2 separate regions of the Homo sapiens genome follow, and region 2 is linked to region 1. The links come from fine-mapping of genetic effects on gene expression. A gene starts in region 1. The other region holds a variant in brackets. All regions are shown on one strand. Distances are from middle to middle. Region 1 holds the start of VEZT (vezatin, adherens junctions transmembrane protein). Region 2 overlaps VEZT (vezatin, adherens junctions transmembrane protein).

What was found. PIP is the estimated chance that this variant, and not a neighbour inherited with it, causes the effect.
Region 2: its variant is fine-mapped to the expression of VEZT in tibial artery (GTEx, PIP above 0.99). The same link has a PIP of 0.9 or more in atrial appendage.

What each region holds. Positions count from the first base shown.
Region 1 is chr12:95,213,069-95,224,374 of GRCh38, reverse strand. VEZT (vezatin, adherens junctions transmembrane protein) reads right to left here and starts at 6,568. Exons shown (of 12, transcript NM_017599.4): 1 at 6,489-6,568. The coding sequence starts at 6,524. FGD6 (FYVE, RhoGEF and PH domain containing 6) reads left to right here and starts at 6,908. Exons shown (of 21, transcript NM_018351.4): 1 at 6,908-7,150. The coding sequence starts at 7,135. RefSeq lists enhancers at 5,700-5,749, 6,350-6,589, 6,054-6,649, 6,650-7,244, 10,326-10,405 and a silencer at 6,820-7,049.
Region 2 is chr12:95,296,089-95,307,394 of GRCh38, reverse strand. VEZT (vezatin, adherens junctions transmembrane protein) reads right to left here. Exons shown (of 12, transcript NM_017599.4): 11 at 11,137-11,306; 12 at 4,596-7,230. The coding sequence ends at 6,722. Among named protein-coding and RNA genes, the nearest start is that of MIR331, 6.7 kb to the left of the region's middle. The variant T/C (reference allele first, on the strand shown) is at 6,624.

The DNA of each region.
Region 1 (11,306 bases):
AACACTGCATTCCAGCCTAGGCAACAGTGCAAGACCCTGTCAAAAAAAAAAAAAAAGTTGTGGCTTTAGGTACAGGAATGCAATCACTAACAAATAGTAGCCGTAGAGGGAAAGAATTCAGACAAGAAACACCCAAACCTCTCTGGCGCTCTTTCCTCCATCCTCTGATCTGCAGGTCCTTCCCACTGGCCGAACCTAAATGGAACCCAGAGGACAAGGGAATGCAGTGATGCAGTCCATAATGATCAGGGTGGAATTATGGGTCTGAGGGACACAGGGAGAAAAATAATCACCAATGATAACATCAATCCCTCAACTATATACTTGGGTATTAAATAAGAAATAAAAATGGAACTTATACAACCATGAGACAAACTACATTTCAAAACTTTCGTGATACAACTGAAGCAATACTCAGGGAAATTTATAGCCTTACAAGTTATTTTGGGCATTTAGGTTTTTAACTCAAGAAGCTAAAAAAAACAGAACAAAAATAGCAAAATAAACACAAATAGATGAATGGAAATAGATAAAAGTAGAAATTTTAAAAAAATTTAAAACCACAAACAAATTCAATAGAACTGACCAAACAAAACCAACTAGTTTTTTGAAAAGTCTACCTGAGGCCAGGCACGGTGGCTCACATCTGTAATCCCAGCACTTTGGTAGGCCGAGGTGGGTGGATCACCCGAGGTCAGGAGTTCAAGACCAGCCTGGCCAACATGGTGAAACCCCATCTCTACTAGAAATACAAAAATTAGCTGGGCATGGTGATGGGTGCCTGTAATCCCAGCTACTCGGGAGGCTGAGGCAGGAGAATTGCTTGAACCCAGGAGGCAGAGGTTGCAGCAAGCCAAGATCCTGCCATTGCACTCCAGCCTGGGCGACAAGGCTAACAGAGTGGAACTCTGTCTCAAAAAAAAGAAAAGTCTATCTGGTAAGTTGAAACTCCAGCACATCTATGCAAAACAAAAAGAAAAACATAACAACAATCAGATCTAATTTGTGCTATAAATGAAACTAAAGAGACTACTAAGAATATATCAATAATTTTGAAAACCTAGATAAAAAGCAATTTGTTGGAAAAATTTAATAAAAGGTAACATTTACTGAGTGTTTACAATGTGTCAGGTACTCATCTAAGTAATTCACTTATATTAAATCATTTAGTACTCATAACTACCTTACGAGATAGTTACTGTTATTTTTATTTAATATGGAGAAAACTGAAGCTTAGACAAGTTAAGTAACCTGCTCAAAGTCACATTAACTAATATAACTAATAAATAGCTGACCTAGGATTTCTTAGGTTATCCAGCTCCAGAGCCCATATCTTTAACTATATTACACTGCCTTTCAGAATAAAAAAGTTATCAAAATAGAAAATTGTACCTGAGCAATAACCATAAAAGAAATTGAGCTGATAGACAACATTCAGTCTCTTTTCCCCAGGAAAGGCCAATTTAGCTATACTCTGAAGAAACAGATAATTCTCATTTTGTAAAATCAGTCCTAGAGCACAGAACGAGATGAGAAGTTGCTTGATTCATTTAGAAGGCAAGCAATAAATGTTCACGGATTGGAAGATTCAATATTGATTGTAAAGATGTTAAGTTTCCCCAGATTAATTTATAGCTTCAAAGCAATTTCAATCAAAGTCTCAGTAGGGTTTTTTTATTTTTATTTTTTATTTTTTTACAAAAACTGACAGGCTGATTCTAAAATTTATATGGAAATATAATGGGCCAAGAATAGCCAAAGGCAATCCTGAAGAAAAATACAGCTGAAGGGTCTTATGCTATCAGATATTAAAACCTATTTTTTAAATTATAGTAATTAAAATAATGTGGTATTAACACACGAATAGACAAAATGATCAATGGCAAAGAAGACAGTGTCCAGAAAGAGATCTACACATAAAAGATTCCCTGATTTATGACAAAGGCAACACTACAGTTCAGTGGGGAAAAAATGATCTGTTCAGTAAATGGTGCCAGGTCAACTGGACATCCATACGGGGAAAAAAAAATGTTGATCTTCACTTGTTACCATACAAAAATCAGTACCAGATGGATGACAGATCTAAATGGGAAAATGTCAAATAAAGCTTTTAAAGAAAATATCTTTGTGACCTTAGAGTAGGCAAATATTTTTTTAACAGCACTAATCACAAAAGAATAAGGTTTAATTGGATTATAATAAGGAGCTTCTGTTCATTGAAAGACACGATTAAAAGAGTGCAGAGGCCACATATAGCCCAAGGTAAGATATATGAGGTATATACAGTTGTCTCTTTATTCATGGGGAATTGGTCACAGGACTAGGGCAAATACCCAGTCCATGGATGCTCAAGTCCCTTATATAAAATGGCATAGTATTTGCATATAACATACACACAGTCTCCCACATATTTTAAATCATCTCTAGATTATTTGTAATACCTAATACAATGTGAACACTATGTAAATAGTTGTTATCCTGTATAGTTTTTTTATTTGTATTATTTTTTGAATATTTTTGAGTATTTATTTATTTATTTAGAGATATGGTCTCACTCTGTCACCCAGGCTGGAATTGTAGCTCACTGCAGCCTCAAATTCCTGGGCTCAAGCAATCTTCTGCCTCAGGCTGTGGAGTAGCTGGCATTACAGACATGCATCACCACACCTGGTTAATTTTTTTCTTTTTTTTTTTTAATATGCAGGGTTTTGTTAATGTTGACCAGGCTGGTCTTAAACTCCTGGCTTCAAGCAATATTCCTACCTTAGCCTCCCAAAGTGCTGGGATTACAGGCATGAGCCACCTCACTGGGCCAGAGTATTTCCTTTATTTTTTTTTTTTGAGATGGAATCTTACTCTGTCACCCAGAGCAACCTCCGCCTCCTGGGTTCAAGCGATTCTCATGCCTCAGCCTCTGGAGTAGCTGGGACTACAGGTGCATGCCACCATGCCCAGCTAGTTTTTGTATTTTTTAGTAGAGACTGGGTTTCGCCATGTTGGCCAGGCTGGTCTCAAACTCCTAGCCTCAAGTGATCTGCCTGGCTTAGCTTTCCAAAGTGCTAGGATTATAGGCGTGAGCCACGGTTGGTCCAATCTGCAGATGTGGAACTCTCAGCTAAGGAGGGCCAACTGCATCTCTAACAAAGGACTTGTATCCAGTGTATGTAAATAATTCCTTCAAATCAGCAAGAAAAAGAAACAACCCAATAGAAAAATATGCAAGAAATTTGACGTGGCTTCACAAAATGGATATACAATTGGCTAATAAACACATTAAAAATCTTAACATCTTTATCAAGAAAATACAAATTAAAACCACAAGGAGATACCAGGACATAGCCCCTAGAATCATAAAAAGAAAAACACTAAAATTAGCAAGGGTTGATGAGGATGTGGGGCAATGGGACCTCTCATACATTCCTGGCTGGAGAATAAACTGGTACAACCACTTTGGAATAAAGTTTGGCAATATCTACAGAAATATCTAGGTATTTGCTATGACCCAGCAATTCCATTCCTACATATATATCCACCAGAAATATGTTTAACCAAACACATACAAAAAGGTTCACAGTAGCACTAGTTTAAACCTGGGAACTACTCAATGACCATTAATAGAAGAATGAATTTAAAAATGATCATATATTCACATGGAATACTATGCCAAAATAAAAATTCTCATGTTAACAATATGGACGAATCTCACAAATAAAGCCAGAGAGGAAAAAAAAAAGTCAGAAATAAGAGAGTATATAAATGGAAATGCACAGTGTCTAAACAATAAAAATAGACAAAATTAATCTAGGTTATTATGTTTAAATAGTGATCATTTTGGGGTAGGGAGTAGTGATGGAAAGGACCAGGAGGGAGCTTCTGGTGTGCTGGTGATGTTGTTTCTTTTTTCATTTTTTATTTTTTTGGGGCAGAGTCTGGCTCTGTCATCCAGGCTGGAGTACAGCGGTGCGATCATGGCTCACTGCAGCCTTGACCTACCCAGGCTCAAGTGATTCTCCCACCTCAGCCTCCCGAGTAGCTGGGACTATAGGCATGTGCCACCACGCCCAAATAATTTTTGTCTTTTTTGTAGAGATAGGGTTTCACCATGTTGTCCAGGCTAATCTCAAACTCCTGGGTTCAAGGGATCCATCTGCCTCAGCCTCCCAAAGTGCTGAGATTACAGGTGTGAGCCACCATGCCCCATCTGTCCCGTTTCTTGATCTGGGTGCTGGTTACATGGGTGTGCTCAACATGTGAAAATATAACCATCCACACACTTGTGATCTGTGCCCTGTCCTTATGTAAATTATACTGCAATAAAAATTGTGTATATCAAAGAGCAAACAAACAGCAAACTGGAAATTTTTCTGCAAGTATGACAAAGGCTTAGTAATATATGAAGAACTCACGCAAGTCAATTTTTTTAAAGCTAGCATCTAATAAGAAAATGAGCAACAAATATGAAGAGAAATGTTCAAAGAAATAAAAATAGCTAATAAATGTATAAATGCATAAAATGTAAATTAAAACAATGGAATGTTATTTTTGCCTATCAAATTAGCAAAGATTAAAGGAAACTGTTAAGGCTGTTGTTGAGGATTTGGTGAAACCAATACTCTCTTATTCTTAATGGAAACCGGAATTGGTATAACCTTTCTGCGTAAGTCTTAAATGTTCATATTCTTTCACCCACTAGTTCTACTTCTAAAAATTATTCTGAGGAAAATCAGAGTTGTAGTTAAAAATAGGCTTATATCACTGTTGATTACAATGGTATTTTTTTAAAAAAAGGTTATATTATGATACACGTGAGGGGATATTATAATATTAATGTTTTCAGAGAATGATGAATGGGAAAAGATTCACGATAAAGTCAAGTGAAAAATATATACAAAATTCTACGTGGTATACCTTTTGTTTTAAAAAATATCACACACACATTGTGTCTTAATATAGAGGCTAAAAAATTACACACACATAAACACACATTTACATAGAAATAAAGTCTATAAGAACACATACCGTACTGTTAATAGTTACCATCTTTGGGTGGTGGGATAATGGATGATTTTAACTTGGGGGCTTATTTTCTACAATAAAATGTTCCTTGAGCATATATTACTATTATATTCAGAAATCAAAAATAATGGGTAAAAAAAATACACCCATCAGTTACCCTTACTCTAGAAAATATTTCTCTCTCCTTCAGCTACCACATTCAATCTATAAACATTGCCTCGATTTTAACTTACAAGTGTCTGTCCAAGCCATTATTCCATTACGTCTCTCATTTCATCTCAGGCCCTTGTCTTCCCTAATGAACGCCTCATATCTAGACTCTTCACTTCGGTAAAATGGCCACATTTTCCACTGCTTCTTCATTGCAGCCACATCAAGCCACTTTACATAGCCACCCTCCACACCCCGCCCCCTAAAAATGCACACCAGGTACTTTCACACTTCCCAAGCTTGGCATAATCAGTTCTCTTTCCCTGTAATACATTTTCTCCTGCCGGTTTTTCTAATCCAATTCATAGTTAAAGATTCACCTCGGATATCGCGTACTGGGTGTAGCCTCTGGGAGGCCGCAAGAACAGAAATTAATCCTTCAATGACAGTTTGTACATATTTCAACATTTAGCATTCTGTCCTGTCTGTGCCTCGCTCTCTCGCTGTATGGCATGGGCCACTTCATTTTTAAATTTTCTTAAAATCTAGTTGGATAAATGAAAGTAAAGCGTATACATGCAATACACATACGTACAGGGGTGCGAGTTTTGACCTGTGTCTGATGGAAAAAAATGGCATCAAAAACACTCGCCCGATTTTTTTCATTCAAGATGGCAGAGAACGTCTTAAAATAGTCCCACACAAAAGCACTCACATCTAGAGCCCCGAGTCAGAAGAACTGGCTACACCTAGCGCAACAGCAAAGGACAAAAGAATCGAATCTAGATGCTGAGATGCCCTGGCCCTAACTACCCACAGTAGGTCCCACAAATAGACTTTAAACCGTGTTAGAAAACGGGCACCTGCTGCCTTCATTCCGAGGGCCACGCCTTGACGGTGAACAGTGACCTGAAGCACTCTGGATACTGACCCAAAAAAATCGCGGATGGAAAAGGAGGAGGCTAAGTTGTGACTATCTAAAAGGCACGATTCGGCCCCGCCCCAGCCGGGCGCAGTCCCCCCCGCCGCACATCCATTCCCAGGAAGGAAGAGACACCGCTCCAGCCCAGAGCCTGGCAACCGGGCACCGTCTGGGAATTCTGGGCGGGCCCGAGATAGAGGCCGGCCACGGCCAGGGCGCCTCTGGCTACACCTGTCAGGCGACGACGGACTCTAGGCCCTGAAATCGCTGGGGTTCGGTGGTCGAGGCCAGCTGGAGCGCGTCACCCGATCCCTCGCCCCGGGAACGCCTTGCTTCCTCGATTTCCGTCTCGTCCTTCTCAAACAAAGGCAATCCACACCCACCGCCATTTTCCTCTTACCTCAAAAACCACCTCTTCGTCAAACTCCGGTGTCATCCTTCTCCGCCATGCCACCCGCCTCAGCACGATGGGAAATGAAGGCGGGAGTACAGGCGGCACGGAGCTCCAGCTCCTGCCCGTCCCGTGGGTCCAGAAAACTACAATTCCCAATATGCCTCGCCGCTCACGCCCCCTTTTCGAGCCCGCTTATTGGAGAAGAGAGTGAGCGTGTAAGCGAGAGAGGCGGGAGCGAGCTGAAGCTCGAGCCCTCCGATTGGAGGAGGCTAGGGCTTTTGTCTGCCTTTTACGGCCGCGACTAGCAGGGGGCGCCCGGAGCACTGCTGATTTTTGGAGCCCGAGAAGGGCACGCGCCAGCGGAGCCGAAGAGAGCACTGCTCGTGCCCGCGCCTGGCTGTCAGCCTGCCGCTCTGCGGGGCGGTGCTAGTGCTCGCCCGCCCGACCCCGGCGGCTCGCGCCCGGGAGCGCCGCAGGGTCGCTAGAGTCGGCCGCGTCCTTTGTGTGGCGCTCAGGCTGCGCCGCGGGGCGGCGGGACGGAATGTGGGCGCTGCGGGGGCTTTTCTCTCCTACCCGAACTGTGGGAACAATGGACTGAAAGGGGAAGATGGATTGAGGGGCCGAGCGGGGAAGCGAGCTGCACCGGGGAATCATGACTTCTGCAGCCGGTAAGTGACGGCGCTCGCGCTGCCGCGGGAAAGTTTGTGGCGAGCGCTGCTAGGCTTGGGCTCGCGAGCAACTTTCTTCGCCGGGGTGGGCGAGTTGTGTGCCCCGTACCTTTGCCGAGCACCTCGGCAAGCGCGGAGCTAATGGGATTCGCTGCCGGCTTTCTCGTCTTTTCCTGCCCAGAGGGGCTGTTTGGAAACCCGGGATTTCTCGGGATCTCCCTTCCAAGGGGGACTGTGCTGGGGGCTCTGCACCAGGTGAAATGCGATGTGTGAAGGGCGTTCGCTCATCTCTCCAGCAGTGCGAGGACTTCGCCTTTGCATGTGAAAATAGTGTAGATTCCCAAGTTAATAGATCAGTTATTATAGGTAAAGGCAGTGTTCTCAGCGTGTTCAATTTGGCCACTAAGTGAGTCGCTTTCAACCTTGTATCTGCTGGTAAACCTTTTACCCATTTTAAAGAGGCGTAGACATTGTCATGTCCTGGTGGTTTTACCTCTGTTACCTGAGAAGCAGAGGAGTTGAGATTGTTGAGGTTTTTTTTTTTTTTTTTTTTTTGCTTGTCTGCACCCAATTACAATTATTTTGTTTGTTTCTACCTGATTAGGGTAAACAAAGCTTTATTTTCTGTCTGCCTCCCATAGTTCTTTCCCCTTCATCCAAATGACAAAGCCTCTATCTTTGTGTGGATTTTCAGCAATTCTAGACGTTGTGTTTCTGAACATTCTTAAGGAACAATTTCTGTTTTACAAAATAATTACCAAAGTGGTGTTACGTTCACTTCGTAAGTACATAGGTTAATTTTTAAACCAGAACTTATGTATTAAGTAGAGTGTTATGGGTTATTTTACGTTTTTGTCCACGTTGAAACTTTCATTAGAAATTTTATAGTGAAATAGTTTAAAGCTTCTTCTCAAGGTTACTTCCAGAATCAGCACTTAAGTATCAGATTAAATTTTCATTGCTTTTCTTGGCATTTGTTTAAAATTCTTGCAACTTGAAACTGTCCAACAGCACTCAAATGTTCTGATTTGTATTATTTCTAAAGCCTAGATATATTGTAGTGTTGCATTGCTCCCTGTGATCAGATTACAACAAACGAAACAAGAAGTTAGCCAATAGGAAAAGAAAGCAAGAAGTGGGTGTTGTGTGGGTCTTTCCTTTTTGATGTTATATGCACTTATATGAGATATCTTTATAAACTCTCTTTTCTTTGCCAAAGGGAGGCTTTATACTTACATAAGGTAAATTATTTTCATCCTACATTTCTGTGCCTTACCTTCGTTCAAGAAATTGATTTAAATTAAAAGTGGTTGGAAATTTTAAAATCCTTCCAGCCAGTTTTAGCTCTTTCCTTTTTGGAGGTGTCAAATGTATTTAAAATAACCGTGTCTTATATGTATCAGTTTTCAATTCCAGTCTTAACAGTTTATAAGGAACAGGCACAGAAGCATGTAATTTCACATTTATGTAAACCCAATTTCTAGGGCCCAGACTGGAAGTTCATGATTCTTGCATTTGAATTATCCTAAAATAATGCAAGCTATTTTTGTATTTTATCAACTTTACAATTAAAGAAATCCACAGAAATTTTTGTGGTGTTTAAAGTGGGACACTTCCTGTGTCTAGCCGAGTTGGTTGGTTTTTAGCATTGCTGGCTGAGAAGCATCAACTACTTTTTTGCTCACCCATCTGTTGGATTTATCATAATTCTTTCTGGTGTCTAGATGGGGAATATGGAAGAGAACTGGGGTTTTATTTCTACCCATTCTTATATGTATACATAGTTCTTACAAGCTGATTATGGTGCTTTTTGGGAACAATAGTCAAATTCATTGAAACGTTTAGGAAAGTTACTTGAAGTTAAGGGAGGGGATTTTTGCTTTTGAATCTAATCTGTGGTATTTGGAAGGGTTGGTTTAATTTAAGAAAATAAAAGGAATGTTGTAGAACATCTAGGTTATATGTATCCAGCAGAAAAGCTTGCTTTGTTTTTCTACATCTATAAAATAATCTGCCCTTAGTGGAGATTTCAGAATTATTTTAAGCTGTATATGAAAAAGGAGAGGCTGGGCGCAGTGGCTCAAGCCTGTAATTCCATCACTTTGGGAGGCCAAGGCGGGTGGATCACTTGAGGTCAGGAGTTTGAGACCAGCCTGGCCAACATGGCAAAACCCTGTCTCTACTAAAAATACAAAAATTAGCCAGGTGTGGTGGGGTGCGCCTGTAGTCCCAGCTATTCGGGAGGCTGATATGAAAATTGCTTGAGCCAGCGAGGCGGAGGTTGTGGTGAGCCGAGATCGAGCCACTGCACTCTAGCCTGGGTGACAGAGCAAGACTCCATCTCAAAAAAAAAAAAAAAAAAAGAAAAAAGGAGAGAGAATTATAGGTATATATAGGTATATATTTTGTGTCCTTTTGAACATGTACAGGTCACTGTCTTCATTGTCTGTGCTTTGCGTTTTGGCTGGTCCAGTAGCCAGAGAGTGTACACGTGAACCACAGCCATCTGTGTGTAACAGATGACGAGTATGTTTGTAATAGTTAGTAAAATGGTACTAGTGCTTTACTTTCTTACCTTATATTTCCCTGGAGCCAAACAGCTGTGTAAATAAAAGATTTGCTGCTTTGCTCTAAGAAGCTTTGGGTCTGACTGTTGATGCAGTATTAAGATCCAAAGGTGCTAGATTTATTGCCAAATGTCATGCACTTATTTCACATTGGAGTAGACCATAATATAATGGCTTATTATTTTTTGAGTTGTGTTTCTTCCAAAATAGAGCCATGAAAAAAAAATAATGAAGGATTTTGGATATTGCTCTACCAGTGACTTAGTTGAACACTTGTTCCTATTAATAATTAAGGAATTTTTCAATAATCGTATTGAAATTGATTCCTGCTAACTTTTCAAAATATTATTCTACATTAAAATGGATGTACATTTTTGAATGTGATTATTTTTAAAGAAGAAATTTTCTGTTATGGAGACATATTAAAGAGTATGTGTATGTGGCAGCTGTGATTATTCCCAGGCCCTGTTGTTAGCACTGGGATACATCAGTGAATGAGACAAAGTGCCTGCCCTTCTGGAGCTTGTGTCTTATGCTGAACACAGACAAAGGTGAACTGAAAAAACATCAACGCAGGAGACAGAGGCCACAGTACATGAGGTTCTTCTGAAATGAGTGTCTCAGAAGTTATCATCTCAGATTCCTATGGGCTTTAGAGGCCTGTTCAACTCCCCCATTTATAAGGAAGGAAAGTGAGGCAGCCAGGTCTGTACAAGGCCCACAATTAGGTTAGCCAGCTCCCTGAGTTATGTCTGTGACTTCCTTCAATACACAGTTAACTAACAATGGCAAGCCCAAGTTCACAGTTATTAATTGAATTCAGTGAGTATGCGTTGAGGGTTTTATGTACGTAATAGGACTTTGCTATATTTATTGGGAATCAACTCCAGCACATACGTAGTTAATTGAATTTCTGTGACACTAGAACAGGAATTTATATCTCTTGGAAGCAGATTTGTGTACAAAACGCATTTTTTAAAAAGAGTAAAATTGGTACCAGGGATTTTTTAAAAATGATATTTAAATGACCCTAAAGCTTCTGACAAGGTTCTAAGATACGGAAAGTAAAAGATTAATTTGATGAGAGATGAAGTTTTCTTCCAACTGTGGTAAAATAGCACATAAGATAAATTTACCGTCTTACTCATTTTTAAGTGTATAGTTCAGAAGTGTTAAGTACATTCACATGGTACATCCAATCTCAAGAACTCTTCATTTTACGAAACTATTTTTTTTGTTTTCATGGAGACGGAGTCTTACTGTGTTGCCCAGGCTGGTCTCCAATTCCTGAGCTCAAGCAATCCTCCCACCTTGCCCTCCCAAGGTGCTGGGATTACAGGCATGAGCCACTATGCCAGGCTGCCAAAACTAATTTTTAAAAAATTCTTTGAAAAATCCCAGAGGTAGGATGTTTTGATAATGGTTACAGAAATAAAATCAACTTGACAGTCGTACTGAGTAAGATGGGCCGTTGGGAAGAGGCCTAAGGCATTCATACTTTCTCTTAAGACTTGACTTACTAAATGGAGGGTTTGATTTAATAGACATTTACAACTAGGTTTCTCACTAGGATTTGAAGGGTTTTTCAG
Region 2 (11,306 bases), 83 kb before region 1:
ACAAGGTCTCTCGTTCTGTTGCCCAGGCTGGAGTGCAGTGGTGCAATCATGGCTCACTGCAGCTGTGGCCTCCTGGGCTCAAGTGATCCTCCTGCCTCAGCCTACTGAGCAGCTGGGACTACAGGTGTGTGCCACCACATCCAGCTAATTTTTAAGTTTTTCTGTAGAGACCAAGTCTTGCTGTTTCTTGCCTAAGCTGGTCTTGAACTCCTGGCCTCAAGAGATCCTCCTGCCTCAGCCTCTCAAAGTGCTAGGATTGTAGGTGTGAGCCACTACGTCCTAGCTTATCACACATTTTAGAATATCTATAAAATCAGTTCCTCCTTATTCATGCTAAACTTTTACATGTGTGAATCCTTGAATCAATTAATCCTCTTTTTGGTTTACAGCAATTACACTGAATAGAATCACTTTCCTCTCACAACTACACTCAGAAGTTTTCTTCTTTTATCACTGACCTGGCTTTGGTATCTTGACTATCTCTTCTATAATGGCAGTCTCAACTCAAGAAACTGGTTTGGACCACCTATCTTTTTTTTTTTTTTTTGAGATGAAGTCTTACTCTGTCACCCAGGCTGGAGTGCAATGGCGCAATCTCGGCTCACTGTAACCTCCGCCTCCCGGGTTCAAGTGATTCTCCTGCCTCAGCCTACTGAGTAGCTAGAATTATAGGCAGGTACCACCACCACGCCCGGCTAATTTTTGTATTTTTAGTAGAGACGGGGTTTCACCATGTTGGTCAGGCTGGTCTCGAACTCCTGACCTCGTGATCCACCTGCCTCGGCCTCCCAAAGTGCTGGGATTACAGGCGTGAGCCACCGCGCCCAGCCTGGACCACTTATCTTTTATGATTATTATACCACAGATCCCTTCCATTAGCATGGATAACTGAATGCCGACTATGAGGCATGGTCATAAAATAAACAGACTGATTTGACAGTTACTTTGTAATGAAAACATGAGTCAATATATGGTTACTAAAATAATCAGCATGTTGCTAAAAATAAGTTGTTTGATGCTAGGATATCCATTTCTATACAGATTTGACTTTTACTTGTAAATATTATAGTGTGCAAATTTTATTTTTCATTCAAGAGAGAAAAGTGATCCTGCTTAATTATTAAATATTAAATTACAATTTAATCATGCCCAGTACAGAATGACAGTGGGAATTTAGTCATTCAAATATCTGCCAATATCATTAGATCTAACACTGATAACTTTTGGTAAGCTTTTAACGTCCGCTTACTATAGCTGAATAAAAATAAAGACCCTGTTTTTAAAACTAGCATAATCAAAAAATAAATTCTTTGTGGTATAATTGCCTATAGTCTATAAATTTTATTACTTCTCAGGTCTCTGTGACATTAATAGTGAATGTTTTCTTATTTTTCAGGGCTTAATCTATTTTCATGTCTTGGAAATGAAGATACATTTCTCTCTTAAAAAAAAAAAAAAAAAAAAAAAAAAAGCCGGCTGGGCGCTGTGGCTCATGCCTGTAATCCCAGCACTTTGGGAGGCCAAGGACGGCAGATCACAAGGTCAGGAGATCGAGACCATCCTGGCTAACACGGTGAAAACCCATCTCTACTAAAAATACAAAAAAATAGCCGGAGTGGTGGCGGGCGCCTGTAGTCCCAGCTACTCCGGAGGCTGAGGCAGAAGAATGGCGTGAACTTGGGAGGCGGACCTTGCAGTGAGCCGAGATTGCACCACTGCACTCCAGCCTCGGCAACAGAGTGAGACTCTGTCTCAAACAAAACAAAACAACAACAAAAAAAAAGCCAAAGAAATTCTTAACAGCATGTAGTCTCCAATTCAAATAGAAAATACTATAGAAAATGCTAACTTGAGTGGACCAGTTTTAATCAGCGCCAAATAATTCTAGTATAGAACTAACTTTAGAGAAAGTAAAGTATGTAAACAAAATAGTTCCTTTTGTACCATAACAACTTTTCTATTTTGAGAGCAGGTATCTAATTCGGTAGCTTCACTTATTTTAACGATAGCAATGAAACAGGTAGTAAAGTAACAGATGTCACAAAATCCATGCATTTAAGCATAATCCACTTCCTCAAGTCTTCACTTTGAGTTTATTTATTCTTACTTTACACAGAAGTCTAATAAACTTAGTTTGTCTGGTCTCCAAAATGAAAGCAGATCAGAAGGCACATTATGAAGGTGGAGAAGGGCTACTGCTACAGGCACACTTAAGCAAGCAGTAATAGAAATGGAAGAATCAGAACGACTGTTAAAGACATGAAAACTAAAACGAGTACAGCAGAATGGAGCCATTTAGTACAGGGACAAACAGCTCTCAATGTCTGATTAGTCTATCAGATTATAATAAGTGATGTTAATGCTGATCATTTTGATACCAAACAAATTAAAATACATTCATATATTATTTAAGACAGTAATGCATATCAATTTTATGAAGATTTCCTTCAGAGATTATTCCAAAAAATTTTAGGGCTGAAAGAGGTTCAAGCTCTGCAGGAAACTGGGATATCTAGAATGACTCATTCCCCAAATATTCAAGTTACCCAGTTCTTACTAAATTAGCCATCTTTAGTCTCATAACAATATTTCTAGAACATAAGTCTTGATGAACAGAGTTGAAGTTACATTTATAGTGCCATAAGTTTTAAATCTGTGTACTGTACTAAGAACAATTAATGATAACAATACGTTTAACATTTTTCTGAAATATACACAATTATTTATTCAAAAATGATAGTCAAATTTCTCTTATAGTTGAATTCATTAATGGAAGTCCTAGAAACATCATTATATAAAAACTGAATTAGAACTTCAAATATATGGCAATCACATATTCAACCAAGTATTTGTTTTAGCAAGTTTTTAGTAAAGAACTAAGAGGCAAACAAAACAATGCTAAGCAGTCAAGCAGGTATCACAAAGTCCATGCACTTTACTGACAGAAAAGCCCCTTAGCTCTCTTTCAGTCTACTTACTCTTATTTTAGACACAATTCTAGCAAGCTTGGCAATCTGGTTTCTCAGTCCACAGCAGATTAGAAGCAGCAAATTAGGGACCTATTGCAGGAGGCAGGCACACAAGACGGCGGCAAAAGTGACAGCTGATTATAAGGGAAGATAGAGAAACTGTGAAAAACAGACATAACTGAAAAAAGCACACCAGTGTGAGGTCATGTTGTAAAGGGGTACCTGACATATATCTCAGTAGCCCCTGAGGATGAGTTTCTGTTTATCACCCCATGATAGAAACTGATATTCCTAAAGATGACAGAAAAAGTTAAATTATATTCTATATACTCTAGACAAAGTAGAGAAGTAGTGCATTTAGTTATTAAATTATTAAAATGGATTTGTTTTAGTTAGCTGAGAAGTTAACTTAGGCAAATTAATCACCTGTCTATGATGACAGATAAATGGTTACTGCATTTTTTTTCTATATTTTCTCTTCTAAAATATTTGTAGCTTTATTTTCTAATTGTGAACTGCATAACTATTTTCTTGTAAGTAGAATTGGAAAAATAAACCAACCTTTATGCCTTGTCTGGTTGTCATTCTTAGCATAATATCTACTTTAGTTCAAACAATGATTTAGCTGAGCTATAATACACTCTTATAGTATTTAGTCTGTTTCTTTGTTTGTTTTGGGTATAGGAACAATATACTATGATTAAACCAAATCAGTTGAACTTTTTCATATTTTACATTACTGATAGGAAGTGAAGAGTTAGTCACCAGAGTGAAATGATCTGTAAACACTCCACTGACTTACAATTTTGTGGAATGTATCAGGACTTGATTTTTTTAATGCTTTAACACTAAAAGCTTTATAACTTTTCTTACGTAAATCAGAATATTACTATTAAGAAAATTGAGTTTTAAATGGACTTTCCTACCTGGAGGTAGACAAAGGGTACAAATTCTGTCTTCAAGAGTGACCTAAATAGACTCTCACATGCATTCTTCCATTAAGTACTAGGTTTGTCCTGGTAAAACAAACTACAGAAATATCTGTATTAAAAACTGTCAGGATGATACTCCTAACAAGAATCATACTGTTAAAAATCATATTGTAAAACTTAAAAAGCACAATTATAAGTTTTCCCTGCAGTGTTTTATTTTTTTCCCCAGAGGGCTTCTTCTGTATATAGGGTAGCAGCTTTTTTTTTGAGACGGAGTCTCGCTCTGTCGCCCAGGCTGGAGTGCAGTGGCACGATCTCGGCTCACTGCAAGCTCTGCCTCCCAGGTTCACGCCATTCTCCTGCCTCAGCCTCCCGAGTAGCTGGGACTATAGGCACCCACCACCATGCCCAGCTAATTTTTTGTATTTTTAGTAGAGACGGGGTTTCACCATGTTGCCCAGGCTGGTTTCGAACTCCTGAGCTTAGGCAATCTGCCTGCCTCGGCCTCCCAAAGTGCTGGGATTACAGGCGTGAGCCACCGCACCTGGCCAGGGTGGCAGCTTTGAAAGCTAGCCAAAAGCCTGCTAAGGGAAGTAAAATATTCTTAGAAAAGTAACAAACAAGAAAACCTACTCATATTACATTGGCCTGTTTTTTAATACTTCCTAAGGTATTCATGGCAAGAAGAGCAAAGTTCCAGACAGAGGTTCCTAGATTTTATTGGACATAAACATTACCTATGGCTCATTCCAAAAAGACCAACTAAGAATCACTGGGAGTATGGTCTAAAATTTGCATTTTAAAAATAAGACTTTATTTATTTTGATGTAGTTACCCCACTAATACAACTGAGAACCACTGACTTCAAATATTATGAGAGAAAATTACTCCAGGAATTTTTGCAGAGAAGATAATACTTTATCTTGAAAATATTTTAAATATTTTAAAAGATGGAAACTACACAAAAGAACAAATACTCAAATAAAGCTGCAAGATCTTTATGTCATAATTTCAACAAGTAGAGTTTTCACTGGATTATGTAACAAGTAGTGAATTAAATAGATCAGACTGAAAGACTGGAAATTCTCGATTAAAATTATTTAGTCTTTCAAAATTAAAAGGTATCACCTTAGAGAACACTGAATAAAACTGATACAATTTTATGAAGATTTTCCCCCAAACTGGTGTAATAAAAGTAACATACAATAAAAGAATTAAAAATTATTAAACTCTAATTCTTCCTGTGTAAGGTTATAGGTTGAGAGAGATTACCAAGTTTTTCCATAATTGCTTCTTCTAAATCCAAAGAAAAATGAAGTCGGTAAACTAAATAAGTGATTTAAATAAGAAAGTAAACCCTAAGTATTATTGAATAATTTAACAGTTATAACACACAAAGATTTTTAAAATTGAAATTTAGCTATTTCTAAGTAGTAAAGCAAGGCCCAACCTAAGGTATTGCTCCGAAGAGGTTAATTATAGATGAGTTCCAGGATTTTGGCAAAAAGGCAAAATCACTTATAGTACAATAATCTCTACTGTTTATATAAAGCAGAACCAAGTTTTTTTCTCAGGTTAAAAAGTAAATTTCCTTAGATTCCTGAAAGAAAAAAAATCCCCTTTGGTATAAGTAAATTTACTCACTGAAAGTGATAAGTTACAGGAATTTGAATGTGTTTCTTTACTCTAAAGACAATCTAGATTCATCATGCAATTTCCTTTCTAGGACAGCAACATAGATTGAGTTATTACTACATTTCCCCCAAATAATGTCTATAGAACTATGTTATTGCATAGGAGCTACAGGTTTCAAAACTGTATATGCTGAAAATAATTACTCTTTGAAAATGCAATCACAACACAAAACAGGTAAGATTGGCCAATTTGAAAAGCAGTCTCTGTTAAGAGGTAGTTTGTAAATGAAATACTAAGGAGACAAGGATGCTTTCCAGGAGGCTGACAGGATGTTTCCTGAATCTCATTATGGTGGACAGGGCTAGAAAACAGCAGGATTGTGACCTGTTTGTGTTAATGGCACCCAATTATCCAAGGTAAAGTGATACAAGGAACGTTTTTCTGCTTGCTAAATTGGGGGTGGGGCCTTGGAGTACAGAAATCCCACTTTGACATCATCACTTTCAATTGCAAAAAGAAAGGTGAAAGTGTAATTCTAAAAAATGGTACAATATTTTTCTTTTAAAGATCACTAGGACATCTTAAAATTAACTACTAAATACACACATGAACAAAGAAACATAAGAAATGTCATAACCCACGCACTGTTGAAACTACTTTTAGTTCCAAACCCCAGCACACATCAATTGTATCAATTAATTTTTTTATTCAGAACCTGGATCTTTAAGACTGGTATAAACAAAAATAAAATACAAACAACTTGTTATTAACATAATAGCTGCAGTTATTAACTGCAAGAATACAGTAAAAAGGAGTCATACTAAATGTTAATGTTCTTGCAACAGAATTTTCCCAATCACCTTAAGGTAGCAAATTCTGGCAAGAAATGATAATTCATTTCTTATTAAAAATACTTAAAGAATTTCCAAGATTGATCAGTTGTGCCACAAATAAAACAGCAGTTTATTCAAAAGAGCCCTTACCTTTCTCTTATTTTCCTAAAAGATCTGCCATTTACAGGTAACTACTAATTTCAGATCAGTTATTCAAACCAGGGTTCTTCCTGTAAATCCACATCTTAGCTTTA[T/C]ATATAGTAAACTTACACTCATATTCCCTTTCCAGTCTTGAAGCTAAACACTTTTGTAAAAGGAACAATCTAATATCACTTCATATGAATCTTGGTTCTTACTTTTCTTCTATCTCATTTTTATTTTCTTCTATTATTTGTTCTTCCTCCTCACCACCAAAAGTCTGTTCCTGCATGGTGGTAAAGGAGAGAGATCTAGCAGCCACTTCTGCAGCAAGGCCAGCAGTGAAGGTAAAATCTGGTGACAGCTGTAGCCGTGCCAGCCTCTGCTTAATGGAGGGCTGTAATGAGTCCCTGGGAGTTGGAGGGGCAGTGGTCAGACCACTTCCATCTGCTTGTGGTTCATCTTCACTCTCACATTGGTAACACATTCTTTCTTCTGCTCCTTGGGGGAAGACTTCATTTGAAGAATTATCTTTATTTTTACCTTCTAGAGAGTTTTCACATAAATACTCAGTCCTACTTATTTCATTGTCTGTTGTGGCGGATTTATTACTTTCCTCTTCAGTATCATTTTTACTGACTTTTCCCATATCTGAATTCATTGATGGTTCTGAATTACTTATGGGTTCCACTGGGTCTACAGGAGACAAGGATTTCAACACGGCTTCAAATAAAAAAAAAGAAAAAAGAAAAAAAATAACTAAGGACCTAGCAATGATTTAAACTTTTAATTCAAACTCTCAGTTTTTTTCTTAAAAAGAACAATAAATAAATAAAAGCTAAATAAAACTTTCTAGTAAAATCAATGAAAATTTATAAATCCAGGAAACTTTATAAGAGAGAAAATGCCTAAGAAATGAAATGAGATAGGGATTTGATGAAGGTTTTTATGACACCTCACATATTATCTTATTTAAAATATTAAAGCAGTGGTTCTGAAAGTGTGTTCCCTGAACCAACATTATCAGTTATCACCTAGGAATTTGTTAAAAATGCAAATTCTTGGGCCTGATCCCAGACCTCCTGAAATGGAAACTCTGGGAGTAGGGACCAGCTATATTTTACAAGCCCTCATCTTGATTCTGATACACACTAAAGTTTGAGAACCATTGTATTAGGGAATAAGCAGCATGGTTTTCACTGATAATACATCAGATAAAAGGCTTAAAGTAATCTAGATAATAATAATATCTTCCATATGTATACATATATATTTACAAGTTAAAACAGCATGGAAAAAAATGCAACATACAATTTAACTTACTTGCCAACCACCTAACAAGACCCTAATGAAAGAAAAGCCATAACTTCTACACATTTTGTAGTACCACGAAAAATACAAATGAAGTCTGCATTCAAGATCAACTATTGTACAAAATATAATACATAAATATAATATATATTCATACGGTAGAAGTTGTCCTTGCAAGGAAAATGCAGTTTTATTTAGCCCCTCTTGATGTTAGTAGGCAGTGGGTTGCTTGCTAGGCAGTCGCTCATCCCAGCATGAGGGGTTAGTACAATACAATATAGTATGAAGCATGACGGAAGGAAAAAAGTGCTTCTCGAAGAGCTGGCGTGTATTTAAAAAACGTTTTTGTAAAATGTGTCCACTTCCAGGAACCATCCCTAAGCTGCAGTAACTCCACTAGAGAAGCAGCAACAACAGAAAAAAAATGGCCACAGCAGGTTCCAGTGCAGACTTTCCCCCTCTAATTCCATGCGGACTTTACCCCTGTAGGCAGAGATGAAAACAGCTCTGGAAGATGTACTGAAATTTTTCATGGGAAAAGCATTCTATGGTATCAGCAGCTTTTTACTTATTTTCACAAACTAAAACAGCATTATGACCCTTTCCAATGTAAACTATATCAAAAGCACATACCTGAAAAAGAGACACATTTCTCTCATTGATAAATCTTTCCCATAATGTCAATAGCATAATTTTAAAGCTATATGAAGAAACACTAAACAATAAAAAAGGATATAAGTTTATATACAATGCTATTTTCAATATATGTACATTCTTAGTTTATAAATCTGTTAGCTCTTAAAGGAAGCAACATATATTAGAAGTTGGTTGATAGTTCACAATTATTACTAATTAAATGGGGTGGATATAATCTGAGTAATGAGAGGATCAATTGACGAGTGTGTTAGAATTTAAGCCTTGAGGCAGGTAGGAGGCTTTACATTTTGTCTCTTGATCTTTGCGCTAGGGATACAGCAGTAAACAGTGCCTGACATATAACAAGTACCTAATAACTACTTGTTGAATGAGTAATTTGCTGAATGAATGCTGTGGGATAATAAGGCCCCTATTTAAGAAGACTGTAATTTTGTTACAGAGACAAACAAAACAAAACAAAACAAAACCCTGAACATATAGAAAACAACAGTGCCTAAAATTAATCTCTGATGTATGTAGGCCCAGTATATGAATGAACAGATTGCAGGAAATCAATCTGTTAATCATTTCCCTTCTCTGCTATATGCTTTGGGGTTCAAGACTTCCTTTATATTTTATCACAATGTTCCTCTAGTGTGAGGGTCTGTAGTGTTAGGAGAGGCGGCAGAGCTGGAGCACTCAGAGAAGGATTCATGGAGAAGGAGAGACTAGTAGAGAGGACAGCTTGGTGGAGAAGGCAGAATTCTTGGTAAAGGGGTAAGCATGAATTATTATTATTATTATTATTATTATTATTTTTTGAGAGAGAGTCTCACTCTGTCACCCAGGCTGGAGTGCAGTGGTGCGATGTCGGCTCACTGCAACCTCCACCTCCCAGGTTCAAGCGATTCTCCTGCCTCAGCCTCCAGAGCAGCTGGGATTATAGGTGTGCGCCATCACACCTGGCTAATTTTTGTATTTTTAGTAGAGAGGGGGTTTCGCCATGTTGGCCAGGCTGGTCTTGAACTCCTGACCTCAAGTGATCCACCTGCCTTGGCCTCCCAAAGTGTTGGAATTAGAGGCGTGAGCCACTGTGCTTGGCCAGCATGAATTTTTTTCATGAATAAAAATAACACATTTGTGAACTGTAGTTTAATTCGATAAACATAAGAAGATATCTATAGTAAAAACAGTAGAAAATATAATTGGATAGATGAATTCTTATGATGAAGAGACTTGAAAACAGGAAAAAGAGTTTAGATTCAACACAATAAGAAAGGGAGAAACCACTATAGGTTTTAAGATAGAGAGCCATCATCAATGCAGTGTTGGAGAAAAATCTGCAAAGAGTTTGCAAGATAGCTTAGAAGAAAAAAGTACTGAAAATGGAAGTCAGCTAAGAAGGTATTTTAATGTACAAGGATAATCTACTGAGGACCTGGGCTATAAAGGGGGCCAATGGGAAGAAAGAGGAATGATAAAACCAAGAAATGCAGATCTGGACAGGAGAAAACATAGGGCTCCTGAGGGGAAAAAAAAAAAGAGAACTGGAGGAACTTTCCAGAAGTATAGGTAATCTATGTACTTCTAGTGAGGAGGGAAAAGCAGGGCAGTTGATTTCGAGGGTCCACACAGATACTGTAAAATGGAAGAGAATCCACACTCTACCTACTTAGAAATCCATAGGCATTAATTCAACTAAGAATTAGCTAGGTTGATACTGTCAAGTATTAAGCTTCCCCTGATTCCTTCCCTGTCTCCCATGAAGTTTGACTTAAGAAAAGAAGGGTGAGAAACAGAAAGGAATGTAAGGCTTTTGTATTACCAGCTACCCCACTCTGCTGAAATCAGAGTATGGGGAGTACGCCCACAGGCACCCTGCTCCCCTCCCATCTACTAAAGTGCTCAAACCACTTAAATAATGCTAATGATGTGGCTCACTGGTCTAGGTTTTAATTCCTTTTTTTTCTTTTCTTTTCTTTTCTTTCTTTTTTTCTTTTTGAGATGGAGTCTCCCTCTGTTGCCCAGGCTGGAGTGCAGTGGCGTGATCTTGGCTCACTGAAACCTCCGCCTCCCGGGTTCAAGTGATTCTCCTGCCTCAGCCTCTCGAGTAGCTGGGACTACAGGCACGCGCCACCATGCCTTGTTAATTTTTGTATTTTTAGTAGAGATGGGGTTTCGCCATGTTGGCCAGGCTGGTCTTGAACTCCTGACCTCAAATGATCCACCCGCCTCAGCTTCCCAACGTGCTGATATTACAAGCATGTGCCGCTGCGCCTGGGCCATTTTTTTCAATGTGAGCACAGTTATTAATTTTGTGCTTCACTGAGGTATTTTTAAATATTTTAACATATGGACAACAGAGTTGAGAATCTCAAATTCACTAAATTTGAAAATAACATTTAAAATATCCCAAATTATTCAACTCACTGCCCATTCTAAAACAAATTTACTAAAAAATTAAATAACTCATAAAAAAGTATGACTTCATATTTCCAATGTGGTTACATTCCTACTCTTTTATTAATCAAATTGATTTAGCATCTAGAAGAAAAAGTACTATGCATACTGGTGGACCCTTATAAAACCCCAAGAATTCTTCAGCTAAAATAACATTCATGGTTCAAGAAAGAAAGAATCCCCTACATTGAAATAACCTGTTACTTTAAAGTCAGTGCTTACCATGATCACTAAATAGAAGTTGCTTCCACTTCTGCCTTTCTGCCTCTGAAGCTTTAAATCCCAGCACAGATTTTAATTCTTGGAGCACCCTCTTGGATTCTTCATGCTCACGCTTCTGTCTCTCTTTGTCTTCTTGAGACAAGTAATAAAAATCATCCTTTCTGAAATCA